Regions from separate parts of the Homo sapiens genome. Here region 2 is linked to region 1. The links come from fine-mapping of genetic effects on gene expression. A gene starts in region 1. The other region holds a variant in brackets. All regions are shown on one strand. Distances are from middle to middle.

Region 1 (15,708 bases):
CAGCCTAAATAACCAAAAATTATATTTCATTTCTTAAAGCATATAACTCCAATGGCAACGGAAACAGATCAGCATGAACCATGGAAAGTAAAGCCAGACTGGGCTTAACATTTTTCATCTAAATGATCATGAATGCTACTTACTAACTTTTTGATAATCCTTAAAAATTTAAATTAATCCAGGAAAGTTTAAGACTTTACCATACAGGCTTACACTTAGATACATATATAGAAATGATTTTCTTTTCTTTTTCTTTTTTTTTTGGAGGTGGAGTCTCGCTCTGTTGCCAGGCTGGAGCGCAGCGGTGCAATCTTGGCTCACTGCAACCTCCGACTCCCGGGTTCAAGCGATTCTCCTGCCTCAGCCTCCCGAGTAGCTGAGAGTACAGGTGTGCGCCACCACGCCCAGCTAATTTTTGTACTTTTAGTAGAGACGGGGTTTCAACATGTTGGCCAGAATGGTCTCGATCTCTTGACCTCGTTATCTGCCCACCTCAGCCTCCCAAAGTGCTGGGATTACAGGCATGAGCCACTGCGCCCGGCCAGAAATGATTTTCTTTAAACAGCATATGAGAACTTAAGAAGGCCAAATGAATACAGTTGGCTCTCCATTCTCCCAAATGAATACAGTTGGGTTCTACATATGTGAATTCAACCAACCACAGATCAAAAATACTTGGGGAAAAAAAAGACAATACGACAATAAAAACACTAACAAAAATACAGTATAACAACTATTTACATAGCACTTACATTGTATTAGGCGTTATAAGTAATCTAGAGATGATCTGAAGTATAAGGGAGGATGTGTGTAGGTTACTACACCACTTTATATTAAGGGACTTACTAAAGCATCCCCAGAGTTTGATATCCATGGCCGGGTCCTGGAACCAATCTCCACCCCAAGGATAGGAGACAGGACTGTAAACTCCTTGTAACACAGTTATTTTAGTAGCTAGTTTATGACTTAGGAAGGAAATCTGACAGACTTCATGGTTAAATTATCACCTGTGACACAGTTTAGTCACCAGATTAACTTCTGTACCACCAGTTTACTAAAAATAGTCAAAATAACTTGAAACAAACTTTGAGGGAAAATTTGAAAGTTTTAAAATTAATTTCTACAAAGGCAGTATTTACTGGAAAAACTATAAATTTCCAAGGTTGAACAAATAAAAAGGAAGCAAAAGTACGGATACCTTTTAAGGCTGTGGCAAACAGCCTGACAAATGCCTCAGTGATCACAGAAAAAACATCAGAGTACTGAACAAAAAAATGGCTAATTAAACAATGGCAACATCAAAGTAAATTTTACGAAAAAGGCTAAAATTATCAAGTTGTATGGAATGCTCACTTTCCAATAATATTAGGGGGAAAAATCAGTCATGATTTGACTATGTACTGGAATTACTGTTTTTAACAATAAAAATGTTCTGACCTAGAATTGTCAGGCTCAAATCAAATCTTTTTTTTTTTTTTTTTTGAGACTGTGCCTCACTCTTATCCAGGCTGGAGTGCAGTGGCGCAATCTTGGCTCACTGCAACCTCTGCATCCAAGGTCCAAGTGATTCTCCTGCCTCAGCCTCCTGAGTAGCTGGGATTACAGGTGTGCACCACCACGCCCGGCTAATTTTTGTATTTTTAGTAGAGACGGGGTTTCAGCATGTTGGCCAGGCTGGTCTTGAACTCCTGACCCCAAATGTTATGCCCGCCTGAGCCTCCCAAAGTCCTAGGATTACGGGCGTGAGCCATGGAACCTGGCCTGAAATACTTCAAATAAAGCAAGATATGAGAAATTCTTTTTAAAAAGCTGCTAATGGCTAATCATTCTATAATCAGAAGCCAAAAAACCTTCACCAAAAAAATAGCTGCTCATAAGAACAATTATGTCAACTTACGAGAAATCTTAAATAGACGGCTGTGGAGAGTTACAGTGAGAGTACTTTTAGCAGGCTTTAATTCACATACATTGCACTGACCTAGAACTGTCAGGCTCATATCTGGAAGCAACCCACACCATAATATCCAAATAGTTGCCTAGGGTCTAAGAGTTCTAAGACTTATTTCTTTCAAGAAAAGATTTAATCAAACAAACTTAATCCTATGTTACTGACTTACTCAAATTTTCCAAAAAGTGCAGTCAGGTAGTACAGAAAAACTAAATAATGCTTAAAATAAAAATAAAACATGGAAAAACAATCAATCAGGTTCAAATTATTTGTACATAATCCCCACTACCACGAGAATGTTCAAATTTACTATCAATAAAACATCCAGGAAATTCCAACTTTTCAAACCCGCCTGAGAGGTTTTCAAGAAATCTCTTTGGGCCAGGTGCAGTGGCTCATGCCTGTAATCCCAGCACTTTGGGAGACCAAGGTGGGTGGATCACTTGAAGTCAGGAGTTCGAGACCAGCATGGCCAACACGGTGAAACCCCGTCTCTTTTAAAAATGCAAAAATTAGCCGGGTGTGGTGGCACATGCCTGTAATCCCAGCTACCTGGGAAGCTGAGGCAGGAGAATTGCTTGAATCTGGGAGGCGGAGGTTGCAGTGAGTCGACATCATGCCACTGCCCTCCAGCCTGGGCGATAGAGCAAGACTCTGTCTCAAAAAAAATCTTAACTCTTTTTTTTTTTTCTTTTTCAAGGTGGAGTCTCTTAACTCTCTCGCCCAGGCTGGAGTGCAGTAGCGCCATCTTGCCTTGCTGCAACCTTCTGCCTCCCAGGTTCAAGCAACTCTCCTGCCTCAGCCTCCTGAGTATCTGGGACTACAGGTGCATGCCACCACGCCCAGCTAATTTTTGTACTTTCAGTAGAGACAGGGTTTCACCATTTTGGCCAGGCTAGTCTCAAACTCCTGAGCTCGTGATTTGCCCACCTCAGCCTTCCAAAGTGCTGGGATTACAGGCGTGAGCCACAGCACCCAGCCCAAAATCTTAACTCTTGTTACCTCTATTTGGAAAGGTCTTACCCATTTCTGATTCTTCACCTTGGGCCAGATAATCTGTTTGTAATTGTGTAGCCCAGGTGATCTGGATGCAGCATTGAGGCAAGCAACAGAAAGCAGACGCACTATCATCCTCATATTCTTATTCCAAGCATCTAAACATTTCTAAAAAGACTGATACAGGAATAGCCCCCTGATAAATGTTTTGTCAAATCTGGGGAAGGAAAAAGTAATTTATTTTTGAAAATCCATTTCTTATTAGAAATAACAGGCCTATCAAATCTAAGTAAAAACCAATTCTCGGCAGTGGCTCATGTCTGTAATTCTAGCACTTTGGGAGGCCGAGGAGGGAGGATCTCCCGTTGAGGTCAGGAGTTTGAGACCAGCCTGGCCAACACGGTGAAACCCCATCTCTACTAAAAATACAAAAATTAGCCAGGTGTGATGGCACACGCCTATAGTCCTAGCTACTCGGCAGGCTGAGGCTGGAGAATCACTTGAATTGGGGAGGCGGAGATTGCAGCGAGCCAAGATTGCGCCACTGCACTCCAGCCTGGGTGATAAGGCCAGACTTCGCCTAAAGAAAAAAAAGAAAGAAAGAAAATCAATTATATTTCCTTCAAACATAATGAAAAACATCAGCTGAACAAAGATATCTTAAATAAGTGACCAACAAATCTACATAAGGTAAGTCAGATAAATTAAAACCAAAAACGTGATTTTTTTTTTTTTGAGATGGAGTCTCACTCTGTTGCCCAGGCTAGAGTGCAGTGGCATGCCCTCCATCTCCCAGGTTCAAGAGATTCTCCTGCCTCAGCCTCCCAAGCAGCTGAAATTACAAGCGCGCAACACCATACCCGACTAACTAATTTTTGTATTTTTAGAAGAGACAGGATTTCACCATGTTGGCCAGGCTGGTCTCGAATTCCTGACCTCAGGTGATCCACCTGCCTCGGCCTCCCAAAGTGCTGGGATTACAGGTGTGAGCCACTGCACACAGTCAAACATGTGGTTTTTAATCTGTCAGGAAAAAAGTTCCAGAAAAGTGATGTCATTTTATAAATCTCAGATTTAATAAGGATAAAAAATTAGGAGACAGTGTGCTGTACATGATTAGCAGTTTCAGTCAGGAAAAAGGAAGCATCAGTTGCATTAAATTCTGCCTCCAGAAAGCTTTGTTCCTTTAAGTAGATCACTTAAGAGTTTCACTCAAAAATAGTACCTACTATGCTACCCGATGATCTCTAACGTATTTTTCAACTTCAAAACCCAACAGCTCTATGATATCACCGATGAGCTTCTCTAATTCCTTTAATCTCTACCTCTAGTATAAAGATGTTGAACCATAACAATATATTCTAGTGGGCACTTATTATGTATTACGTACTGAGTTGTGTTCCAAGTGTCTTTGCATTAACTTACAGAGTCCTAAAAATCTATGGAATAAAATGCTAATATCCCCATCTGACAACTCAGAAAACTGAGGTTCAAGCATGCTCTTCACTAACTCAGGAAATCTGCATGCTATGATATACATGTCACTTTCACTTATCTACCTTATTCGTTTCCCAAAATTATATTTTAGTAACATTGCACTATATTGCCCTGACATTAAAGACAAAAATTCAGAAATCATTTAATGGCTATTAATTACTAAGCACTAGACACTTCACATATGCAATGGCATGTACTCCTCAATCTGATTAAGTAGCTATTAGGTTATTCCTCTATTTCAGGTGAAAATAGAGGATCTTAGATTAAGACACTGTTCAGTGTCATATGAATAAGTGGCAGACCTGGAATTTGAATCTATAACTCTATTATTCACAAGTCTGTAAACTTAACACCTTATTATACAGTGGTGGTAAATTTGTGATTTAATTAACATTTCCTATTGGTAGCATGCTTTTATGTTCTTTTCCAGGTCTTCAAATATTTCCTATTGAGAATTCATAATTTGGCCAGGAGCAGCAGCTCACACCTACAATCCCAACGCTTTGGGAGGCCTAAGCAGGAGGATCCCTTGAGGCCAGGAATTCAAGACCAGCCTGGTCAACATAGTGAGACTATCTCTATAAAAATTTTAAAAATCAGCTAGGCATGGTGGCACACACCTGTAGTCCCAGCTATTCCAGAGGCTTGAGCCCAGGAGTTTGAGGCTGCAGTGAGCTATGATCATACCACTGCACTACAGTCTGAGGGACAGAGCGAGACCCTATCTCTTAAAAAAACAAACAAACACACAGACAGGCGTGGTGGCTCACGCCTGTAATCCCAGTACTTTAGGAGGCTAAGGGGGGCAGATCACAAAGTCAGGAAGGAGTTTGAGACCGGCCTGACCAACATGGTGAAACTGTCTCTACTAAAAATAAAAAAATTAGCTGGGCATGGTGGTGCACGCTTGTAATCCCAGCTCCTCAGGAGGCTGAGGCAGGAGAATCACTTGAACCCGGGAGGTGGAGGTTGCAGTGAGCCGAGATCGCGCCACTGCACTCCAGCCTGGATGACAGCGCAAGACTCCTTCTCAAACACACACTCATAATTCACCAGAACAGATCATTCAAGAATATTATGCTCCACTAGATCCAAATAGCTACACCTTCAGGCTCTGCCTCTTAAAACAAAAAGGCAGACTGCCAACTCTGTAAATGTTTATTTTTGTGTCCACAATCTAGGTAGTTTCAACACCTAAAAATATTGGTAGCAAGATACATAAAATAAAAAGCTTAGAAATAAGAAAACAAAATAAAAACAAAACTTTTAACATGCAAAGTTTTGTCACATTATACCAAGTGAATCCAAGAGACTATGGTAGAAGCTGAAATGAAACAATTTCTTATTTAATTAAAAATGTTCCCCATAGGCTGGGCACGGTGGCTCACGTCTGTAATCCCAGCACTCTGGGAGGCTGAGGCGGGAGGATCAGAAGATCAGGAGATCCAGACCATCCTGGCTAACACAGTGAAACTCCGTCTCTACTAAAAATACAAAAAAATTAGCCGGGGGTGGTGGCAGGTGCCACCACGTAGCCCCAGCTAATCGGGAGGCTGAGGCAGGAGAATGGCGTGAACCCAGGAGGCAGAGCTTGCAGTGAGTGGAGATCACGCCACTGCAGTCCAGCCTGGGTGACAGAGCGACACTCCGTCTCAAAAAAAAAAAAAAAAAAAAAAAAATTCCTCATAAACCCATGATTAAATAGAAGGTATATGCATGCAAATAGTTAATCTTGGCCAAATCCACATTAATGCTTGATTTGTCTTAAAATGTTAAAAATCTCCCTTATCTGCAACTCTCAAACATAATTTGGCTTTCTCCTATAATATAAATAAATATTCTTTTATTCCTTTTTACCACTCCATTATGCAGAAGATTATAAATATTCTTTAAGAAATATGACCTGGAGGCCGGGAGCGGTGGCTCATGCCTGTAATTCCAGAACTCTGGGAGGCCGAGGCGGGCAGATCACCAGATCAGGAGATAGAGACCATCCTGGCTAACAGTCTTTACTAAAAATACATAAAATTAGCCAGGCGTGGTGGCGGGCACCTGTAGTCTCAGCTAGGCAGAGCTTGCAGGGAGCCGAGATTGCACCACTGCACTCCAGCTGGGATGACAGACTGAGACTCCGTTTCAAAAAAAAAAAGGAAAAAAGAAATAAGACCTGGTATTGGCCGGGTGAGGTGGCTCACTCCTGTAATTCCAGCACTTTGGGAGGCCGAGGCAGGTGGATCACGAGGTCAGGAGTTCGAGACCAGCCTGACCAACATGGTGAAACCTTGTCTCTACTAAAAATACAAAAATTAACCAGGAGTAGTGGTGTGTGCCTGTAAGTAATACCAGCTACTCAGGAGGCTGAGGTAGGAGAATTGCTTGAATTTGGGAGGCAGAGGTTGCAGTGAGCCGAGATCATGCCACTGCACTCCAGCCTGGGTGACAGAGTGAGACTCCATCTCTCACACACACAGAAGGAAGGAAGGAAGGAAGGAAGGAAGGAAGGAAGGGAAAAATATGGTTGGCCGGGCGCGGTGGCTCATGCCTGTAATCCCAGCACTTTGGGAGGCTCAGGCGGGTGGATCAACTGAGGTCAGGAGTTTGAGACCAGCCTGGCCAAGATGGTGAAACCCCGTCTCCACTAAAAATACAAAAATTAGCCGGGCGCAGTGGTGGGCACCTGTAATCCCAGCTACTTGGGAGGCTGAGGCAGGAGAATCGCTTGAACCCGGGAGGCAGAGGTTGCAGTGAGCTGACATCACGCCACTGCACTCTAGGCTGCGTGACAGAGCAAGACTCCATCTCAAAAAAAGAAAAAGAAAAAAAGAAAGAAAGAAAAAAAAAGAAATATGACCTGGTATTATTTTTATATGGGGCTAAAAATGACCAAAACGTAAAATATAGTACATATAAGAGGAATTGACATGAATAATTTTACACATAAATTATTATAAATTTCTTTTCCTGTAAACTTAAAATTATTTTTTCCTATGGCTGATAAAAACATCGAACAGACTCCTAATTATAACTCACTTGTACTTAACGTACTTTAAAACAGAAAATGACGCTGACTACCAATATTTTTCTTCAAGTTGTTGGCATGGCTATTAAGCTCAGTCAAGGGTAAACACCTCTTGAGTTTTAAATACTCCAGGTAGAAGACATTTAAACCTGTAATTATGAAGTAAGTTTTCTTTATATGGATGAAATAATTAAATGAAACGTAAAGAGCTTAATTACCATGCCAATAGACCTACTAGGTACTCTAAAAAACATGACTTCTGGGCTGGGTGCCGTCGCTCATCCTTGCATTCCCAGCACTTTGGAAAGCCCAGGGGGACAGATCACCTGAGGTCAGGTGTTCCAGACCAGCCTGGCCAACATGGCGAAACCCCTTCTCTACTAAAAATACAAAAATTAGCCGGGTATAGTAGTATACGCCTGTAATCCCAGCTACTCGGGAGGTCGAGGCAGGAGAATCATTTGAACCCAGGAGGCAGAGATGAAATCGGGCCATTGCACTCCAACCTGGGCAATGGAGACTCCGTCTCAGAACAAAACAAACAAAACAAAATAACAACAACAAAAATTACTTCATTTTGGCTGGGCGCGGTGGCTCACGCCTGTAATCCCAGCACTTTGAGAAGCCGAGACGGGAGGATCACGAGGTCAGGAGATCGAGGCCATCCTGGCTAACACGGTGAAACCCCATCTCTACTAAAAATACAAAAAATTAGCTGGGGGGTGGTGGCGGGCGCCTGTAGTCCCAGCTACTCGGGAGGCGGAGGCAGGAAAATGGCATGAACCCACGAGGCAGAGCTTGCAGTGAGCCAAGATCGCGCCACCGCACCCCAGACTGGGCGACAGAGCAAGACTCGTCTCAAAAAAAAAAAACCCTTCATTTTACTCAAAACTTATTTACATGATGCTAACCAACTTCAATTAACATATGAGTTGGACAGACAAGTAAATAAACACAATTCATTTTTAAATCCCCAAAGTTTTAAACCCAGTAGTTAAGAACACTTGGTAGGAACTCAAAATTGCTGGATAATCTTAATTAAAAAATTTTTACATTTAGGTCTTCTTACCCCCCAAAAGAACACAAGGTAGATGGGGACATAAACTCTCTTTTACCAAGTGGCTGATAGGAAAACATTAAAACTGAGATGGTTGTTTCTGTGTAAAAGAAATCATCCTCAAAATAAATAGGAACCAAGGCTGAGGCAGGATTGCTTGAGGCCAAGAGTTCTAGACCAGCCTGGACAACACAGAAAGCCTGTGTACCAAAAAAAAAAAAAAAAAAAAAAAAGATTAGAAAATTAGCCGGGTGTAGCGGTGCATGCCCCGTTGCCCTTGCTACTCAGGGAAGCTGAGGCAGGAGGCTCTCGTGAGCCAAAGAGTTTGAGGCTGCAGTAAGCTATGATCACATCCCTGCACTCCGGCCTGGGCAACAAAGCGAGATCCCGCCTAAAAATAATAACCAGTAATTCTATTATAAACATACAACCAAAAACTTCACGGTTTAATACTTTTGCACAGAGGACCAATGAAGGGTTCTATAGAAAATTAGGTTTTTTATAAAGTGTGCTGATTTAAATATTATTTTCAAACAACTTTTTTTTTTTTTTTTTTTTGAGACGAAGTCTCGCTCTTGTCCCCCAGGCTGGAGTGCGATGGCGCGATCTCGGCTCACTGCAACCTCCGCCTCCCGGGTTCAAGCGATTCTCCTGCCTCGGCCGCCGCCACCAGGCACGGCTAATTTTTGTATTTTTTTTCTTTAGTAGAAACGGGGTTTCACCATATGGGCCAGGCTGGTCTAGAACTCCTGACCTCAGGTGATCCACCCGCCTGGGCCTCCCAAAGTGCGGGGCTTACAGGCGTGAGCCACCGCGCCCGGCCTCAACCAACTCTACTTAAAGAGTTTAAATACTACCTTCTTTTTCAGAGCAGGGAAACATAACGGGTAAGCGGGTACGCTTTTATTTCAAAAGTAAATTTGTTTATTAAGAAATTAAAGAAGCTTTCCGCAAAACAAGATGTTTAAACAATAAGGTGTGATTGGTCTTTTATTTATTGTACAAATATTTGGCACTACTATGTGCCAGACACCGGACTGAAGACGTTTGGTAAAACTTTCAACTTCTCTGAAGCCGAGAATAAGATTTTCAATTAAATTTACATGTGTCTATTACATTTGTCTTTCATTTCTGCCTGAGTAGCCGGGAAAACACATTAGACAGGTTCCTTAAAAACTAAAGTAAAATTTGAAGGAAGGAATAATTTCGGTTTAAACTAGTGATCATTCCCAACAACTCCAAACACCACATTCACTGTCTCTTACAAGGCATTTTATGTTACACCAATTACTAGTTTTAGCTTCATCCTATTACGATTTGAAGCCTGGTAACTCGGCAGGCATAAGCAAACCCACAAAAAGCATATTAAAATCCACAGGTAAAAAAGCAAACTATTCTGAAACAAAACATGCTTTGCTGGAGCCGATTTGAGATTTAACCAGGATCAGACATTCCAAATTGCAATACTGATGCACCAGAATGTCATGAAATAAATTTTTCCTGAATCCTAAGTCTTTCGTTTCCTCAAGCAAAATTTACCAATATGTGGGGAAAACGCAATCCAAACTGCAATTTTCAAATATTTGTTTGCAGGGCCGGGCCCGGTGGCTCACGCCTGTTATCCCAGCACTTTGTGAGGCCGAGGCGGGAGGACCACCTGAGGTCAGGAGTTCGAGACCAGCCTGACCAACTTGGAGAAACCCCGTCTCTACTAAAAAATACACAAATCAGCCGGGCGTGGCGGCGCATGCCTGTAATCCCAGCTACTCGGGAGGCTGAGGCAGGAGAATCGCTTGAACCCGGGAGGTGGAGGTTGCGGTGAGCCGAGATCTCGCCATTGCACTCCAGCCTGGGCAACAAGTGCGACACTCCATCTAAAAAAATAAATAAATAAAAACTAAAAAATTATAATAGGCGCCTAAAAATATAGTTTAAAATGCTCCTTTTAATTCGGCATGAACCTGTTCCGCCAAAAGATGGCCTGTTGCTGGGAAAAATTAAAACAAACTAGAAAACATAAACGGTTCAAAAAGCCCTCCACACGCAAAAGTATAAAAAGGCGGGAATTTCCTCATTTCAAATTTTGGTTAGAAATTAGAGTGTCATCAGTTGCCCTCCAGGGAGCGCTCTGAGACTCTGCTGCGAGTCATTTCAGTTAATAAAGCGGGAAAACGCTCGAACTTAACCTATAGCATTTTGGGGCCACCCCTCCAGAGCTTTCGAAAGGGCACGGAAGTCCCCGTCTAAACGCCCGCTGCAGGCGGCTGGTGGTCCAGGGAAGCGGCGTCGACTGCGTGCAAAACAACCGCCGCCAACGCAACTCCACACCTCCCAGACCCACACGTCAAAGAACGCGAACCCCGCGGCCCCAACTTCTGGCCTCTCCGCTCCGGCGCCTGCAGCCCCGCGGGGAAGGGGCGACGCGAGGGGGCGCAGGGACAGCCCCGCACCTGGGAGGCCCGAGGGGGCGCCCGGGAGGGAGGGGCTGCAAACGGCGGCGAGCGCGCGCGGCAACCGCCAAACGCCCGCCTTTGTAGCCCCGGCCCCGCGTCCTTACCCTGCCGACGGCTGCTCGGCTCCGGCCCGCGGCGGCGGCCCCAGAGCCGAGGACCGGGGTGGGCTCGCGCTCTTCGTCACTGGAGAAGTCCGGGGGCCCCTTGCTGTTGGTGCCGGCGGGGAGCGGCGGCCGGTTGCGAGCCGTGAGGTGCTGCAGGTAGAGCTGGACGTACACGTCTTTGCGCTGCTCCCCGGCCGGCAGCGTCACATTGTTGGCGACCAACTCACTCTTCAACTTGTCTTTTGTCAGGACCGAGGGGTCTTCCAGGAACTCCGGCATCTCGGGGATCTGCGAAGCCCCCTCCCCACAGCCTTTGCCGCCGCCGCTCACGCCGGCGCGCTTGCTCCTGGCCGGGGACCGCGCTGCCGCCTCCGAGCCTCACGGCTCCTGCCCGGGAAGAGCGCTGCGGAGCGGAACAAAAACTCGCGGACACAAAGCCAAGCCAGACCCGGACACAAAAGACCCCAGAGCCGAACTACGAACCAACTGCGGCCAAGCTGGAAGCTCGCACCAACCCCAGCCCACACACTACAGGCAGGAGGCGAGCAGCCTGCTTCGCCCACGCCCCAAGAACGCGCGCCGCCATTGGCGGGCGACGGGAGGAAGCGCGGCGGTGATTGGCGAGACGGCTCGCGCGGGTTCCATTAGCCGCCGCGCTGAGCGAGAGGAGGTAGAAACGCAGTTTAAAAGGCGCTGGGGCGGGAGCCGAGGCTCCCGGCCCGCTTCTGTTTTCGTTTTCTCCACCCTTCCCCTTAGACGCCGATAAGGGACAGGTCGTACTGCTTTTGTGCGCCGTTTCCTCTCCCTCCCCCAGCTTGAGAAGCAGCTTTCGTCTCTGGGGTCGATCGCCTACGAACGCGCCGAATTCCACGCCAGTGTGAGGACCCTTGGCTGGGCCTTTCTTCCTCCCGGGACACTGAAGCTCCAAGAGTAGCCGCAGCCTTGCCTTCCCCAAACGCTAGCCCTGAAGGGGAAGAAAAGAAGCGAGGCTTGTCTGCAGGCACTCATATTCCTTGATTTGATTTACTTTGGGAGGGGGAGGGCGGGGAGTTACCCCTCTCCTCGCGAACGCTTCTTTTGTTCCAGAAACCCAGGGGAAGCCAGACCTCTACAATCGGGCACTTAAATTACCCTTGAATTTGTGACAAAAGTGTACTATACCATTCACTTCTTAGTGTCATAGTTGGGGCATGTCTAAATTGTTTAATTTGAACAGTGCGTTCAGACGCAAGACAAATTCGCGCTTGCATTTTTGTTGAAACCGTCTCTGGCTTTGGATCCCACCACCCGCAAGAATCCTAAACCTAACGTTTGATAACAAAACGAAGGAGAACCCTTGGGAACCCCCTCAATGGTCAATTTAAAATAACAGATGGTGCATAATCCTAAAGGAAGACTAGTGACCTATAATTAGGCCTAGAACCCTAATCAAACCCGTATTACCGATCCAAATTAAAACCTGGTAGAATCTAATACATTGACTGCAATTAAAATGTTTGCCTGGAAATTAGTATCACTGATGACAAATATTTGTATTTCTGATGAATATGTATGTTTAAAGATGCTTTCTTTCTAGAAAGGAAAGGAGACCTTGGATGTAGGGTGTGTTAATCATTTCCCCAGAATCTGAGCTCCAAACTATGTTTTAGAAACTGGTTAAATTTTTTTTAAATGTTTGCCTGCTTTCTACATTGCTAGGTTAGAATACATTTAAAACAAACGCCTTCACTAAAAATGTTTCCTATGATTTAAGCGACTTACTTTTATTCAAATTGCGATATTATTTCTTTTAGTGATAATTATTTTCCTAGAGGTAACTAATTCCTTTATAAAAATCTCAGTATTCACATACATTTAAGCAATGGTATTAAGCTCAATAATGCAAATTAAAAATCAGGTTTTAATTAGCAAGTTGTTAGGTAGGTTTTTATGATCCCTTGTAAAAGTTGCTTGGTTTTTTGTCCTCACAGCTTCCCTGGACACATAGGCAAATGTTTTTATCTTCAGAAGGGGAACTGAGCTGAGAGGCAAAGGACCATGACTTTGCAATGACTGGTAACCCAGTACGTATAATGCAAGAACTGCATTCTAGATACGCCTGAAATTAATGTTTCCTGGGCAAAAACATTTTCATTATCTTTTTTTTAATCCCTGGACATTAGCTACAGGTGGTTACTTGCAGATTTACTGCTGTAGAGCTCCAAAATTGAGATTACACTTTTCAGATTCTGCGTACCCTAAGGCTAAGAGGTTGGGCTATTGAGTTTGGGTGGTCTCTTTGGTCCTGATTGCTACTTCCAAACCATTTCTGCTCTTTTCTGCTTCAAAAATATTTGAAGTTCATATCTTCTGGCTAAATCACTTTCTACTCTCCTTCCTGCCATCATCCACGAGCCTCCTGGTCACTTTCCAGAAATTATAGAGCTGCTTGCCGTAGGTTTTCCTCACCATCCCTCTTGTCTACATTCTATCTGAATTCAGCATGCTTGTAGGTGACCCATGCAACACCAACACTTGGCCTCTTAGACCTCTGACCTCTTCATCTCCAACAATTTGTTCCTCTCTTGCGTCTTAACCACTTCGGTATCAGTCAGATTCTGAACCTTGTCATCAGTTGAAATCTCAGTTTCAAGCTTCCCAATTGTCAATCACTAGCCTTTTTTTCCCAGCTAATTTATGGTACTCTCACTTACCTAATTAAGACCTCCACGCTATTAACCCCAACACTTAAAAAAACTCAACTCTTCTGCTTCTGCCATCATGTAATAATTTTGCAACTCACCTGACTTAAATTCCCTGATCAGTCCTTTTCATCACTCTTTTACAAACATTTTCAACTCTCTGATCTCAATGTCTCCTTTTTTGCTTGAAAGAATCTCAGCCTTGCTTGGACTAAACCATGCTCCAGCTGAACTTTCTCATTGCTTACATCCAAACAGCAAAAGCTGCTGGAGAAAAGTCAGTCATATAACAAGCTAACTGGTTTTAATTCATGACCTCAGTCCTCTCAGGAGCACTCAACACTGGCTGGCAATGCTATTCCAGTCTCTGGGTTAACCATTCATACGTTCACATCTCCTCAAATTTCACATCCTTTTTCCCTACCTCTCATTTTTAGCTGGTGACCTTGCCTCAACTTCAAAAAATAAAAACCACCTATGAGGAATGCTTCAACGTCAGACTTTCCAATTTGCATTCATTTTCTCTTGCATTTTTCTTTTCAGTGAAAGATGTGTCCTGTCAGAAGGAAATTCCACCACTTGTACTCTGGCTCTCACCCTTCTCAAGGAATTGACTCTTTCCATCATCTCCTTAATACTTGTTTCAACATAAAAGATAATTTTTAAAATATTTGATCAATGTGACACAAAAAACACAAAGGCTGAGCACTGTGGCTCACGCCTGTAATCCCAACACTTTGGGAGGCTGAGACAGGCGGATCCCTTGAGCTTAGGAGTTCAAGACTAGCCTGGGCAAAACAGTAAAACCCCCTCTCTACAAAAAAATACAAAATTTAGCCATGGTGCCCACCTGTAGTTCTAGCTACTAGGGAGACTGAGGTGGGAGGATCACTTGAGCCTGGGAGGTTGAGGCTGCAGTGAGCCATAATCCTGTCACTGCATTCCAGCCTGGGTGACAGAGTGAGACCCTGTCTCTAAAATCAATATGTGTAAGATGTAGATTGGTCCCTTCCAGAAAGGCGGGACAACTATTAATAAAAGTGGGGGTTGGGGGGCTCGGGGTGTTCCAGGTCATTGGTAGATAAAAGTAATTTTAATTCAGAAAATTTCACAGGGAAATGAGAGTTTTTAGAAGTCTTAATATTCTGACTGTGGTCAGAATGTCCAACAGAGACTAGGCTGGAGTGCAGTGACGTAGTCTCGGCTCACTGCAACCTCCGCCTCCCAGGTTCAAGCAATTCTCCTTGCCCCAGCCTCCAGAGTAGCTGGGACTACAGGCGCCTGCTAATACACTCATCTAATTTGTTTGTATTTTAGTAGAGACTGGGTTTCACCATGTTGACCAGGCTGGTCTTGAACTCCTGACCTCAGGTGATCCACCCGCCTCAGCCTCCCAAAGTTCTGGGATTACAGGCATGAGCCACTGTGCCTGGTGGATGCAAATTTTTTTTTTTTTTTTTTTGGAAATGGAGTCTCCCTCTGTTGCCGAGCCTGGAGTGCAGTAGCACAATCTCAGCCCACTGTAACCTCTGCCTCCCAGGTTCAAGCAATTCTTCTGCCTCAGCCTCCCAAGTAGCTGGGATTACAGGCGCCTGCTGCCACGCCCAGCTAATTTTTTTGTAATATAGTAGAGACAAGAGTTTCACCATGTTGACCAGGCTGGTCTCAAACTCCTGACCTCAGGCAATCCACCCGCCTCAGCCTCCCAAATTGCTGGGATTACAGGCATGAGCCACTGCGTCTGGCCTGATGCAATTTTTTTTTTTTTTAAATCAGAAAACTTTCCCATAACTTAAAAAAAAATCATCTGGAGGTGGGCCCGGTGGCTCACGCCTGTAATCCCAGCACTTTGGGAGGCTGAGGCAGGCAGATCACCTGAGGTCGGGAATTTGAGACCATGTGGAGAAACCCCGTCTCTACTAAAAATACAAAATTAGCCTGGCGTGGTGGCGC
Region 2 (15,708 bases), 55 kb before region 1:
ATTTAGAAGTTGGTATTCCACTGTAAGGAAGTGACTTTCTTTCTCTACATTTATTTAGTTCATTTTTCATTTAGTTTTATAAGTATTGATTAATGAATCTTAATTTAATTCAAGTGTTATAATCGAACACTAACATTATTTACTTTGATGCTCATATTGTTTCATATTTGGCCAGTGGGTACCCCTTTAATCTGATCCTTTATTCTTTTGACAAATCTTTTTTTTTTTTTAGGAGACAGAATCTTGCTCTGTTGCTCAGGCTGAGTGCAGTGGTGTGATCATAGCTCACTATAGCAGCCTTGAACTCCTGGGCTCAAGCAATCCTCCTGCCCTGGCCTCCCAAACCACTGGGATTACAGGCGTGAGCTGTTGCATCTGGCCCTCATCACTTTTTAATCACTTCCTCACTTCCTGGCACAGCAAGATGTTCCTAGCTAAGCTTATACTTTTTTCTACTCCCCTCAGCCTTGGAATCAGCCATTTCTCCAAAGTGCTCTTGTCTCTTTTAGAGGAGAACAGCATCTATAAACCAAGATCTGGGAGCAAAATATGCTCATTGCTTTTGCAAAGCTGTTGCCTCTAGGCTCTTTCAGGGGATATATATATATACATACACATATACATAATGCATGTACAGTTGTCCCTCGTATCAGTGGGGGATTGGTTCCAGGACTGCCCCCCACCACTCTCCTGCCCCACAGATACCAAAATTTGCATATGCTCAAGAAGAGCCTTACATAAAATGGTATAGCATTTGCATATAACTTACACACATCCTCTGGTATATTTTAATCATCTCTAGATCACTTATAATACGCACTATGATGTAAATGCTATGTAAATAGTTGTTATACTGTATTTTTTATTTGTTTTTTTTATTGTTGTATTGTTATTTTTTATTCCTAATATGTTTGATCTGTAGCTGGCTGAGCCCATGGATTCAGAACCCATGGACATGGAGGGCCAACTGTATAACGTACACATCTATATCTATCTATCTATCTATCTATCTATCTATCTATCTATCTATCTATCTATCTGTCATCTATTTCTCTATCATCTCTATCTACCATCCATCTCTCTATATCTATCATCTATCTCTGTCATCCATTTTTTTTGTTTTTTTTGTTTTTTTTTTGAGACGAAGTTTTGCTCTTGTTCCCTAGACTGGAGGGCAATGGCACAATCTCCGCTCACCGCAACCTCTGCCTCCCCGGTTCAAGCGATTCTCCAGCCTCAGCCTCCCCAGTAGCTGGGATTATAGGCATGTGCCAACATGCCCAGCTAATTTTGTATTTTAGTAGAGACAGGGTTTCTCCATGTTGGTCAGGCTGGTCTCAAACTCCTGACCTCAGGTGATCTGCCTGCCTTGGCCTCCCAAAGTGCTGAGATTAGAGGCGTAAGCCACCATGCCTGGCCAATTTCTTTTTTTTTTTTTTTCTTTTGAGACGGAGTCTTGCTCTTGTCGCCCAGGCTGGAGTGCAATGTGGCACAATCTCGGCTCACTGCAACCTCCACCTCCTGGGTTCAAGCGATTCTCTTGCCCCAGCATTCCAAGTAGCTAGGATTACAGGCACCTGCCACTACGCCCGGCTAGATTTTTGTATTTTAGTAAAGACGAGGTTTCACCATGTTGGCCAGGCTGGTCTCTAACTCCTGACCTCAGGTGATCCGCCCACCTCGGCCTCTCAATGTGCTGGGATTACAGGTGTGAGCAACCACGCCCAGCCTCATCCATTTATTTCTGTCTATGCATCTCTGTCTATCATGCCTATCTATCTATCTATCTATCTATCTATCTATCTATCTATCTATCATCTATCTCTGTCATCCATTGATCTATATCTCTGCCATCCACTTATCTCTATCCATCTCTATCATTCATCTCCATCTATCTGATCTATCTCTATCATCCATCAATCTATATCTATCTTTGTCTGTCATCCATTTATCTCTATCCATCTTTATCCTATCATCTATCTATCTATCTATCTATCTATCTATCTATGTCTATCATCTAACTTTTCTTTTAAAAACCATGAGTTCTGAATGGGCACAGTGGCTCACGTCTGTAATCCCAACACTTTGGGAGCCCGAGGCAGGGGGATTGCTTGAGGTCAGGAGCTCGAGACCAGCCTGGCCAACATGGTGAAACCCTGACTCTACCAAGAATAGAAAAATTAGCTGGGTGTGGTGGTCACGCCTGTAATCCCAGCTTCTCGGGAGGCTGAGACAGCAGAATCGCTTGAACCCTGGAGGCAGATGTTGCAGTGAGCAGAGATCATGCCATTGCACTCCAGCCTGAGTGACAGAGTGAGACTCTAAGAAAAAAACAAAACAAAACAAAAAACCACATGAGTTCACACTGATATCTCCAATTTCAAATCTTCAAATCACAACACCACAGGGTTCATTCCAGTCTATTTTTCTTTCCACATTTGTAACCCCCTTCTCTGACAGAGATAATAAACCTGGCTTTCATTATCTTCAATACGTTTACTTACTTATTACCCCCGTATGTAACCAACTTCCTAACCCTGCTGGGTGCCTCCTTGGTACCAACCTTACAGGTCTCACTGGCCGTGCCCTGCCTGAAGAGAAGAAAATAATTATAATAATAGTAATAATAATGTTTTTTAAAGACAAGAAAAAGGAATAAGAGGGAAGAGAAAGAGGAATGGTAAGTCGATATGGCTATCTTGAATGAACGAATTAACCTAAAATCTTAACAATATAACACAATAAATAATGCAATAACATTTCTTGCTCCTGTAAGGTTTGGTGCTGATCAGGTGGTTTTCCAGAGAACTCTCCCTGAAGCGGTGACTCAGGGATTCAAGCTGCTTTCATTTTATGGTTCTGCCACCTCTACATGACCTCTACAGGTTCAGCTAAAGGGGAAGAGGTGGAACAAGAAGGCACATCTGCACTCAACTGCCTCAGAGTAAAAGTGACACATCACTTCCATTTATGTTCTTTTGGCAAGAATTAATCCTGTGACACCACCCAGGTACACAGGACTGAGAAAATATGGAGGAGCACATGGATTTTCAGATAGTACTAACAGTCTCCTCCACACTCAATAGATACATTGGAATGGATTTTGAATCTAGATAACATAAGCTATGTGTAGCTTCCTGGTGGACATTCTTAGAAGGTAACAATGAGGTTCACCAGGAAACAATGAGCAAAACTATTATATCCAACTTTTAGTTATAAGGTAGTGAAATGCAACAGTCATCCATAAAATATGATTTTGGTTTTGGATTAGTTGAGTTAAAGCCATTTTTTCTAGCAGTAGTTAGCAGGATCATGTCTATCACAGCCACACCTAGTCCAAAGGCTAGCATGTTTTTTCCTGGTGGCCGTAGTAAGTATCTGGATGTAATCATTCAGAGTTCATTCAGAAACTACAGTATAAAATACAGCCCTGTGCTTCCTCCTCTAATTATAATTGTTTTTAAATTTTCAAATAATTTCAAACTTACAGAAAAGATGTAAGAATAGTACAAATAACTCATATATACTTCATCCAGATTTACCAGTTTTTAATATTTCGTCACAACTGCTTTAATAGTTTTTTTTCCCATCTATCTCTATGTCTGGCTATCTATTTATCTATCTACCTACTTACCTATTATCCCTCCACCCATCCACCTACCCATATAATTTGAACCATTTGAGAGTAAACTGCAGAGTATACTGTTTAGCCCCTAAATACTTCAGGTACATTTCTTTTTTTTGTGGGGGAGGGGGATGGGGAGAGTCTTGCTCTGACACTCCGGCTTAGAGTGCAGTGGCACGATCCCAGCTCACTGCAACCCCCACCTCCGAGGTTCAAGTGATTCTCGTGCCTCAGCCTCCTGAGTAGCTGGGACTATAGGCATGTGCCACCACACCTGGCTAGTTTTTGTATTTTTAGTAGAGATGGGGTTTTGCCATGTTGGTCAGGCTGATCTCAAACTCCTGGCCTCAAGTGATCTGTCCGCCTCAGCCTCCCAAAGTTCCGGGATTACAGGTGTGAGCCACCGCACCCGGCCTCAGAGTGCATTTCTTAGGGACAAGGATATTCTCTTACATAAGCAGAGTATAATTATCAAAATCAGGAAATTTAATACTAATAATCTAACCTATAATCTACATTCAAAATTTGCTAATTGTCCCAACAATGTCCTTTATTTACAACAATGCCTTTTTTTCTGGTCCGTATCTAATCGTGGATGACACATTGCATTTAGTACACATGCCTCTTTAGCTCCCTTTGCTAAAACTGGACTGCGGTGGCAGCACCATCTCAGCTCACTGCCACCTCTGTTTCCCTGGCTCAAGCAGTCCTACAATCTCAGCCTCCCAAGTAGCTGGGATTACAGGTATGAGCCACCATGCCTGGCTAATTTTTGTATTTTTAGCGGAGATGAAGTTTCACCATGTTGGCCAGGCTGGTCTCAAACTCCTGAGCTCAAAGTGACCCACCAGCATGGGCCTCCCAAAGTGCTAGGATTACAGGCGTGAGCTATGGCACTTGGCCTTATTTATTTATTTATTTTTGCTCACTGTCACCCCTAGATAATTTTTTTTTTATACTTTAAGTTCTGGGATACATGTGCAGAACGTGCAGGTTTGTTACATAGGTATATACGTGCCATGGTGTTTTGCTGCACCCATCATGCTGTCGTCTACATTAGGTATTTCTCCTAATGTTATCCCTCCCCTAGCCCCCCTTTCCCTAACAGGCCCCAGTGTGTGATGTTCCCCTCCCTGTGTCCATGTGTTCTCATCATCCAACTCCTCCTTATGAGTGAGAACATGCGGTGTTTGGTTTTCTGTTCCTGTGTTAGTTTGCTGAGAATGATAGTTTCCAGCTTCATCCATGTCTCTGCAAAGGACATGAACTCATCCTTTTTTATGGCTGCATAGTATTCCATGGTGCATATGTGCCACATTTTCTTTATCCAGTCTATCATTGATGGGCATTTGGGTTGGTTCCAAGTCATTGCTATTGTGAATAGTGCTGCAATAAACATATGTGTGCATGTGTCTTTATAATAGAATGATTTATAATCCTTTGGGTATATGCCCAGTAATGCGATTGCTGGGTCAAACAGTATTTCTGGTTCTAGATCCTTGAGGAATCGCCACACTGTCTTCCACAATGGTTGAACTAGTTTACAGTCCCACCAACAGTGTAAAAGCGTTCCTATTTCTCCACATCCTCTCCAGCATCTGTTGTTTCCCAACTTTTTAATGATCGCCAGAATCTACAAGGAACTTAAACAAATTTACAAGAAAAAAATAAACAACCCCATGAAAAAGTGGGTGAAGGATATGAACAGACACTTCCCAAAAGAAGACATTTATGCGGCCAACAAACATATGAAAAAAAGCTCATCATCACTGGTCATTAGAGAAATGCAAATCAAAACCACAGTGAGATACCATCTCATGCCACTTAGAATGGCCTGACATTTTTTAGGAGTACAGGCCAGCGATTTATGTAAAATTTCCTTTAGTTGAGAGTTGTCTGAAGTTTTGTGATTCCATTCAGGTTGTGCATTTAGAGAAGGGATACTGTGTGAGTGATGTATTCTGCTCAGTGCACCCCTCAGGAAACACTTGGTGATTTATACCATTCCTAGGGTGAGGTTAACTTTGATCACTTAGTTAAAGGTGGTGTCTATCAAATTTCTTCACTGTAAAGTTATTATTTTTCCCTTTGTAATTAACCAGTAATTTATAAAGAGATACTTTTGAGACTATGTAAATATCCTGTTTTTCAAAAATCACATACCCAGTAATTTTCACATCTATTGATTATTCTTGCCTGAATCAACAATTACCATGATTACATGATTTTCTAAATCTTTGCTTCAGGCCAGATGCATGGCTTATGCCTGTAATCTCAGCACTTTGGGAGACTAAAGTGGATCACCTGAGGTCAGGAGTTTGAGACCAGCCTGGCCAACATGGTGAAACCCCATCTCTACTAAATATGCAAAAATTAGCCAGGCACCACACCGTGGTGGTGGGCACCTGTAATCCCAACTACTCGGGAAGCTGAGGCAGGAGAATCACTTGAATTTGGGAGGCAGAGGTTGCAGTGAGCCGAGGTAGTGCCACTGCACTCCAGCCTGGGCAACAGAGTGAGACTTTTTCTCAAAAACAAAAACAACAACAACAAAAAATAAATCTTTGTTTCTTCTATATTTTTTTTTAGCTGACCATTCTACTATAAGTATGAGCTTCCACTGGGCACGGTAGCTCACGCCTATAATTCCAGCACTTTGGGAGGCCAAGGCAGGCAGATAACTTAAGGCCAGGAGTTCGAGACCAGCCTGGCCAAAATGGCAAAACCCTATCTCTAGTAAATATACAAAAATTATCCAGGCATGGTGGCACACACCTGTAGTCCCAGCTACTCAGGAGGCTGAGGTGGGGAGGATCACTTTAACTTGGGAGGTAGAGGTTGCAGCAAGCCAAGATCACACCACTGCACTCCAGCCTGGGTGACAGAGCAAGACTCTGTCTCAAAACAAAACAAAACAAAAAGAATGAGCTTTCCTTTTTATTCATTCATTCATGTGTTATCAGTATAGATATGGACTCTGGAATCTAGATTATAACACATTACTAGTTAGGTGTTTCGCTGGCTTTTTTTTTTTTTTTTTTTTGACACGGGCTTACCTGGGCTGGAGTGCAGTGCTGCAGACTGGCGGAATCATAGCTCACTGCAGCCTCAAACTTATGGGCTCAAGCAAACCTCTCATCACAGCCTCCCAAATAGCTGGGACTACAGGCGCATGCCACAACACCTAGCTTATTTTTGTATTTTTTGTAGAGACAGGGTTTCACCATGTTGCCCAGGCTAGTCTTGAACTTCTGGGTTCAAGTGATCTGCTCTCCTCAGCCTCCCAAACTGTTTGGACTACAGGTGTGAGTCACCGCACCCAGCCTACTTTTGTTTTGATGTTCAAATTATCCTATTTGGGAGCCCCTGCCAGCTGGCTCCTGTGTACTTTTAACATGTCCCATTACTTTTTGAGCATATCTTTACTTTCTTTTAGAAAATATTTATATATTTATTTTTAATTTTAATTTTTAAAAATTTTTATAGAAACAAGAGTCTCGCTATGTTGCCCAGGCTGGTCTCAAACTCCTGGGCTCAAGGGATCCTACTGCCTCAGCCTCCCAAAGTGCTGGGATTACAGGTATGAGCCATGGCTTCTGGCCTTCCTTACTTTCTGATGCAAGATATTTCTCGCTTATCTGTGCTTTTCATGCTCTAACCCTAGCATCAGTCATTTCTCCAAGAAGCCCTGGTACATTTTATAGGGCGATGTTATTTAGGAACCTGGGCACTCCTTAATCCTTTCTTCAGGAATAACTCACCTTATTGAATCTATTCATTTCAGGCATTCTGAACTGCAGGGTTGAATTGGTCCCATTTACTCAGGCTGAGAAAGCATTTAGTTCCTTTACATTAGTCATAAGATCCTAAGTTCTACAAGAGTCTGGTTTGCTCATCGGTGGACTCTTGCCCCTAGGGTGCCAGCCATGTGTATCCAAAATGTTCTATAAATATTTTCTGAATGATTTAATGCTGCCAAGCCTACCTTAGAGAAACCTATTTGAGATATGGTTCCAGTTCTAAGTTCAAGGGTCACTAGAGAGCAGTTACATTCTTTGTACTCACCATGTTACAGAGTCATAGCCTAAAATAGACTTATCTGTCCTACAGTTTACCTTAGTATTTATATTGTATTAGAAGCCTGCAGAAGCCAACAGCTTAGTTTACAACAATTGTTTTTCAGGGGACCCTTTTCCAAGATGCCTTGTTTTCAAGATTTTCTAAATGGTTAAGAAGCAATTTTAGGCCAGGTGCGATGGCTCATGCCTGTAACCCCAGCACTTTGGGAGGTCAGAAGTTTGAGACCAGCCTGGCCAACACGGTGAAACCCGTCTCTAGTAAAAATACAAAAATTAACTGGGCATGGTGGCATGCACGCCTGTAATCCCAGCTGCTCAGGAGGCTGAGGCAGGCAAATTGTTTGAACCCAGGAGGCGGAGGTTGCAGTAAGCTGAGATCATGCCATTGCACTCCAGCCTGGGTAATAAGAGCGAAATTCCGTTTCAAAAACAAAACAAAAATTAGCTGGGTGTGGTGGCCCTTGCCTGTAATCCCAGCTACTCGGGAGGCTGAGGCAGGAGAATAGCTTGAACGCAGGAGGTGGAGGCTGCAGTGAGCCGAGATCATGCCACTGCACTTCAAGCCTGGGTGACACAGTGAGAATTCGTCTCAGAAAAAAAAAAAAAAAGAAGCAATTTTAGCAAATGTGGTTACTTTTACTAAAACTGTGCCAGAACTAACCTATAAAATCTGAGGCGCGTGACATATATATAGGTTTTGATCTATGGTTCCTGGCTCATAACTCCCATAGCCCCTGTTACAATAAAGAGAATCTCTCTGATCTTCTCCGGCCCTCCCTTGGCCTGCCCATGGCAGGACTCTAATCTCATCATTCTAGAGAGAATCTTGTCCCATAACTTGGAGGAAGGAATGTTGCACAGAGTGGCCAAGAAGAATCTTGCTGGACCAACACTTTGGGAGGCCAAGGCGGGTGGATCACTTGAGCTCTGGAGTTCCAGACCAGTCTGGTCAACATGGTAAAACCCTGTCTCTACAAAAAATACAAAAATTAGCCGGGTATAGTGGTGTGCACCTGTAATCCCAGCTACTCGGCAAGCTGAAGCAGGATAATTGCTTGAACCTGGGAGGTGGAGGTTGCAGTGAGCCAAGATGGCGCCACTGCACTCCAGCCTGGGCAATGGAAGTACAAGCCTGTCTCAAAAAATAATAATAATAATCTTTCTGGGTTTAGAGCATACACCTTTTGTCCAATCACACGGTTGTCCATGCTTCAATCATGCCTATCCAATGAAGTCCGCATAAAAAGTCCCAAGAGGGCAGGGGAACATGTGGAGTTTCCTGGAGAGTGGTGTGCTTGGGGAGAGCATGGAAGCACTACGCCCCCTCCCCCATAACTTGCCCTATGCAGCTCATCATCTGTATTATTTGTAATATCCTTTATGATAAACCAGTAAATGTAAATAAATGTTTCCTTGAGTTCTGTGAGCCACACATGCAAATTAATTGAACCCAAAGAGGGAATTCTGGGAACCCCAACTTGAAGCCAGTTGGTCAGAAGTTCCAGAGGCCCAGACTTGCTAGGGTGTCTGAAGTGGGGGGCAGGTTTGGAGACTGAGCCCTCAACCTGTGGGATCTGGCACTATCTCCAGGTAAATGATGTTGGAATTGAATTAGAGGACATTCAGCTGGTGTCTGCTGCAGAATTGATTGCTTGTTTCTTGGTGGGGAGAAATCCTCCACATTTGGTCACAAAAGTCTGCTGTGTTTATTGTTGTTGTGTTATTGAGTGAGACAATGGGAAAAACACAATTATAATTTTTCCGAACAAGGTATTAATTAAAAATACACTGTATATAGTTAAGTAGAGCATTTTATGCTCTTTTCCTTGATAAAACTGTGACTATAATCATTCTATCAGGAAAAAAAATAAACCACACCATTATTTTAACAGTGTTGCCTATGGGAATAGATTAAATGGGCACTGGAGAAGTTTAAAGGCACCGAGAGAAGACTGAGTCTGCACACATAATAACTGCAGAAAGAGCTACCACCCCTAGTGGTGGAGGCACAAAGGGAAGAGGTTGGAGTTAGAATTTAGCAGCGGGCAGTTCCCTGTGGAACTAGGACCCAAACCTCTGAGAAGGCACTGCCTGGCTAGAGCTTGTCTCCAAAGGAACTCAATGAGGCTGATTCTGGAAATGCTAGAAAAACTGGGTATGCTAGCCAAAATATCCTTTTAACATTTTTGCTCATATCAAAGTACTTTCCAGGTTATCTAGTGTAAAAATAACCCAAACATACTGGCTGTATCACAAAACTCTTCTAGTTGTTTACCAGCTGGGCTATTTCAAGACACCACAATTTCAACCTTCTCCCTTCTATTAAGATCTAATGGCATAGGCCGGGTGCAGTGGCTCATGCCTGTAATCCCAGCATTTTGGGAGGCCGAGGCTGGTAGATAACCTGAGGTCAGGAGTTTGAGACCAGCCTGGGGAACATGACCACGTCTCTATTAAAAATACAAAATTAGCTGGGCATGGTGGCACATGCCTGTAATCCCAGCTACTTGGGAGGTTGAGGCAGGAGAATCGCTTCAACCTGGGAGGTGGAGGTTGCAGTGAGCTGAGGTCGTGCACCCCTTGCACTCCAGTCTGGGCAACAAGAGCCAAACTCCGTCTCAAAAAAAAAAAAAAAAAAGTTAGTCAGTCATGGTGTCATGTGCCTATAATTCCACCTACTCTGGTGGCTGAGGCAGGAGAATCCCTTGAACCTGGGAGGCAGAGGCTGTGTGGTGAGCTGAGATTGCGCCACTGCACTCCAACCTGGGTGACAGAGTGAGACCCTGTCTCAAAAAAAAAAAAAAAAAAAAAAAAAAAAAAAAAGGCCAGGCCTGGTGGCTCATGCTTTTAATCCCAGCACTTTAGGAGGCCAATGCGGGCAGATCACGAGGTCAGGAGTTCGAGACCAACCTGGCCAACACAGTGAAACCCCATCCCTACTAAAAATACAAAAATTAGCCAGGCATGGTGGCGGGCACCTGTAATCCCAGCTACCCGGGAGGCTGAGGCAGGATAATCTCTTGAATCCGGGAAGCAGAGGTTGCAGTGAGCCAAGATCGCACCACTGCACTCCAGCCCGGGCAATGGAGCTAGACTCTGTCTAAAAAAAAAAAAAAAAAAAAGCTGGGTACAAACCAACTGTTGCTGCCAGAGTGAAGGGAGGAAGAAGTGATGTGAAGAGGTGGGACAGGAGCAGCAGCCAAGTCCCATCCTCCTCCTGCCGTCCAATCTCCTTTACTACCCCCTGTTCAGGTGAGCCTATAATAGTCTTTTGCATTGTCTCAGCCCAACTGTCAGAAACTATAGAGGAGTGGGTTTGGAGCGGAGAAACAATAGCTTAACCAGCACAGCAATATAGGAGTTCTGTTTGAAAGCAATCTATTGTAGCAACACATTTAGACCCTGAAATAACATACTATAGAGAGAACATTTGAATGCTCACTTGATGGATTTAATGCATACATAAACTCAATTCTTTATGTTCAGCTTTGTTAAAGTCCTCTTACATCAAGATTTATATGGTTAATTAACAAAACAACATTAAAGCAGCTGGGCACGGTGGCTCAAGCCTGTAATCCCAGCACTTTGGGAGGCTGAGGCGGGTGGATCACCTGAGATCAGGAGTTCGAGACCAGCCTCAACATGGAGAAACCCCATCTCTACTAAAAATACAAAATTAGCCAGGCGTGGTGGTGCATGCCTGTAATCCCAGCTACTCGGGAGGCTGAGGCAGGAGAATTGCTTGAACCTGGGAGGCAGAGGTTGCAGTGAGCCAAGATCATGCTATTGCACTCCAGCCTGGGCAACAACAGCGAAACTCCATCTCAAAAAAAAAAGAAAAATTAAAGCCTCACTGGGAAGAAAACACATACAAAGACTGTGAATAGGCAGGGCACAGTGGCTCACGACTGTAATCCCAGCACTTTGGGAGGCTGAGGCAGGCGGATCACGAGGTCAGGAGGTTGGGACCAGCCTGACCAACATGGTGAAACCTCGTCTCTACTAAAATACAAAAATTAGCCGGGCATTTTGGTGGGCACCTGTAATCCCAGCTACTCGGGAGGCTGAGGCAGGAGAATCGCTTGAACCCAGGAGGCGGAGGTTGCAGTGAGCCGAGATTGTGCCACTGCACTCCAGCTGGGGCGACAGAGCAAGACTCCCTCTCAAAAAAAAAAAAAACAGACTGTGAATAACTCAGATTACAAATTTGAAACAAAAGTAGAATTCTGATCTCTAGTTTGAGAAATAAATCATAATGTTAGTGAGTACAGTTTGATCTTTTCTTGGCTGAAACCTAGTAAGCTTGGAGATCAGCATTTTGAACCACCAAAAGGTTAGAAGATAAAAATTAATAGGGATCAAAGGAGAGGCTATTAGATACCGAGTCAGCTGGCAGCTAAAAGGAGGGATAGATAACAGATAAAAATGAGAAGAACCAGAATTTTAAAACCTCATAATCTAAAATAATACAGCTGGCTCCAGCCCCATTTAGGATTAAACAACTGTATTAATCTGTTTTCGCAATGCTGATAAAGACATACCTGAGGCTGGGTAATTTATAAAGAAAAAGAGGTTTAATGGACTCACAGTTCCACATGGCTGGGGA[G/A]GCCTCACAATCATGGTGGAAGGCGAAAGGCATGTCTTACATGGTGGCAGACAAAAGAGAACTTGTGCAAGGAAACTCCCCCTTATAAAACCATTAGATCTCCGCCAGGCACGGTGGCTCACGCCTGTAATCCCAGCACTTTGGGAGGCTGAGGTGGGCGGATCATGAGGTCAAGTGATTGAGACCATCCCGGCCAACATGGTGAAACTCTGTCTGTACTAAAAATACAAAAATTAGCCAGGCGTGGTGGTGGGCGCCTGTAGTCCCAGCTACTCGGGAGGCTGAGGCAGGAGAATTGCTTGAACTGGGGAGGTGGAGGTTGCAGTGAGCCAAGATCACGCCATTGCACTCTAGCCTGGGTGACAGAGCAAGACTCTGTCTAAATAAATAAATAAATAAATAAATAAATAAATAAATAAAACCATTAGATCTCATGAAACTTACAAGAACAGCATGGGAAAGACCCAACCCCAGGATTCAATTACCTCCCACTGGGTCCCTCCCACGACAGGTGGGAATTGTGGGAGCTACAATTCAAGATGAGATTTGGGTGGGGACACAGCCAAACTACATCAACAACTTTACATGGTTATAGATATTTTTGTTTATAACAACAACACACACACGTGCGCACCCCTATAAGTTGAGAGGGCAGAGAAAGTGACAGTAAGAGCATCCTGGCTGTCAAGGCATATTATGCAGACAACATCTGTCTATCAAAAATCACAAGCCAGCCACGGTGGTGTTTTCTTGGGGTTCCAGCTACTCCAGAGGCTGAGGTGGGAAGATCACCTGGGCAACGTAGTGAGACTTCATCTCTTTCTCTCTTTCCCTCTCTTTCTGAGACAGAGTCTCACTCTGCCACCCAGGCTGAAGTACAGTGGCGCCATCATGGCTCACTGCAGCCTCTGCCTCCTGGGCTGAAGTGATCCTCCCACCTCAGCCTCCAAAGTAGCTGGGAGCACAGGTACATGCAACCATGCCCGGCTAATTTTTGTATTTTTTTTTTTTATAGCGACGAGTTTTCGCCATTTTTCCCAGGCTGGTCTCAAACTCTTGGGCTCAAGCGATCCACCCACCTCGGCCTCCCAAAGTGCTGGAATTACAGATGTGAGCCACCACGCCTGGCCAAGACCCTATCTCTTAAAAGAAAAAACTCATAGACTCTTTGGTCCATTTATTTCATTTTGGGGAACTATTCTTACAATTACAGCACATGTGCAAAATGATATGGGTACAAGATGATTCATTGTAGCATTACTTATAACTACAACAGATGGGAAACAATGCAGTAATCGATCAATAGGGTTAAATAAATTATGCTACAGCCACACATGGAACACTATGAAACTGCTAATAAATATAAATAAATAAAATGAAACCTTTTGTACTGACGTCAAAAGATTCCAAACATTGTTAAATGAAACATTAAAGGTATTAAATAGTAGGTAGATTATGACACCACCTATGAAAGAGAAGAGTAAAATTGTGTGTGTGTGTGTGTGTGTGTGTGTGTGTGTGTGTGTGTGTGTGTGTGCATGTGATATCTCTGGAAAGATACACACACAAAAACTAATAACATTGGTTGCCTATGGGGTGGGGAACTGGAGAGTGGGGGTCAGAGGTGAAAGGGAGACTTTTCATTGTTTCTTTTTTCTTTTTCTTTTTTTGAGACAGGGTCTCACTCTGTCACCCAGGCTGGAGTGCAGTGGTATAATCACAGCTCCCTGCAGCCTTGACCTCCTGGCCTCAAGGGGTCCTCCTGCCTCAGTCTCCCGAGTAGCTGGGACTACAGGTACACGCCACTACACCTGGCTAATTTTTAAATATTTTGTCGGCTGGGCGAGATGGCTCACGCCTGTAATCCCAGCTACTCAGGAGGCTGAAGCAGGAGAATCGCTTGAACCTGGATGGCAGAGGTTGCAGTGAGCCGAGATCGCACCACTGCAGTCTCCGCCTGGGTGACAGAGCAAGACTCCGTCTCAAAATAAAAAAAAATAAAAAAGTAATAATAAAAGAAGACCAAAACTAACAGCAATTCACTTTTTGTTTTGTTTTGTTTTTTTGAGACGGAGTGTCACTCTGTCGCCCAGGCTGGAGTGCAATGGCGCCATCTCAGCTCACTGCAACCTCCACCTCCTGTGTTCAAGCGATTCTCCTCCCTCAGTCTCCCGAGTAGCTGAGATTACAGGCGCCGGCCGCCACACCCAGCTAATTTTTGTACTTGTGGTAGAGACAAGGTTTCACCATGTTGGCCAGGCTGGTCTCGAACTCCTGACCTCAGGCAATCCCACCCGCCTCAGCCTCCCAAAGTGCTGGGATTACAGGTGTGAGCCACTGCACCCGGCCTACAATTTTTTTTTTTTTTTTTTTTTTTTAAGACATGGTTTCACGCTTTTGCCCAGGCTGATCTCCAACTCTTGAGCTCAAGCGATCCGCCCACCTCAGCCTCCTAAAGTGCTGGGATTACAGGCGCGAGCCACCTCACCCAGCCAGCAACTCACATATTAATAACAAATGACAGACTACTTCACAGAGCTCTCCTATAGCAGAACGATTACAAACTACACTGAGTTTCACAGCGACATCTAGTGTACTCTTTTTGTAAAATCATAAACTCAATGGCTGGAATACCAGTTTGTGGCCATATGACTACGTATTATTTTTTAAATCCTGAAGTAAACGGCCTAACTAAAGCCTGCTTATTAATTCTTATTGTGCGAAATGTTTGGGGTTCTCACTGTCCATGTTTTAGCTGGATTAGAATTTACTACAGCAGTTGACACTGCAGTATAAAAATAGTTACTTTTGGTTGCTTCAAAATTTTACCGTAAAATTTACATAGTTTGTAATGAGAAAAAGATCAGGAATATTACGAATTCATCTGCAAATTTTTCCTCAATTCGAAGCTACCTAATACAGGGTAGTATAGTATGAAAATACTGTAGAAAGATCTCTGCACACAAAACTAAAATTCTATTTGTAGAATATTGGGAAGTTAGAAATTACCCAAGTAAAAATGTCAGCAACATTCTTGACTAATAAAGGAGTACCAGACAATAATAAGCAAATACTTTGGGACTACTATCAGACATTCTCTTTGGTATGGTAAAAATGCACAATAGCCCAAAAGTGACTTATTTATAAAAACAAAACAATCTATAAGAAAACATTTAGTTATAATACCATATATATAATGTTTTTCTGTTATATCTACTTTATTTAAAAAATTGTTTTGACTTTTTTTTGAGACAGGGTTTCACTGTATTGCCCAGGCCTGGAGTGCAGTAGAGCTATTCACAGGTGTGATCATAGCACACTGCAGCCTCAAACTCCTGGACTCAAGGGATCCTTTGGCCTCAGCCTGCTGAGTAGCTGGGGCTACAGATACACACCAC

What was found. PIP is the estimated chance that this variant, and not a neighbour inherited with it, causes the effect.
Region 2: its variant is fine-mapped to the expression of TMPO in stomach (GTEx, PIP 0.96).

Annotation. Positions count from the first base shown.
Region 1 is chr12:98,511,513-98,527,220 of GRCh38, reverse strand. It overlaps TMPO (thymopoietin), which reads right to left and starts at 11,631. Exons shown (of 9, transcript NM_001032283.3): 1 at 11,075-11,631. The coding sequence starts at 11,353. It overlaps TMPO-AS1 (TMPO antisense RNA 1), which reads left to right and starts at 10,995. Exons shown (of 2, transcript NR_027157.1): 1 at 10,995-11,230; 2 at 11,324-14,248. RefSeq lists silencers at 8,759-8,818, 10,872-11,141 and enhancers at 11,482-11,671, 11,932-12,011, 15,163-15,663.
Region 2 is chr12:98,566,203-98,581,910 of GRCh38, reverse strand. No RefSeq gene overlaps it. Among named protein-coding and RNA genes, the nearest start is that of SLC25A3, 20 kb to the left of the region's middle. The variant G/A (reference allele first, on the strand shown) is at 12,311.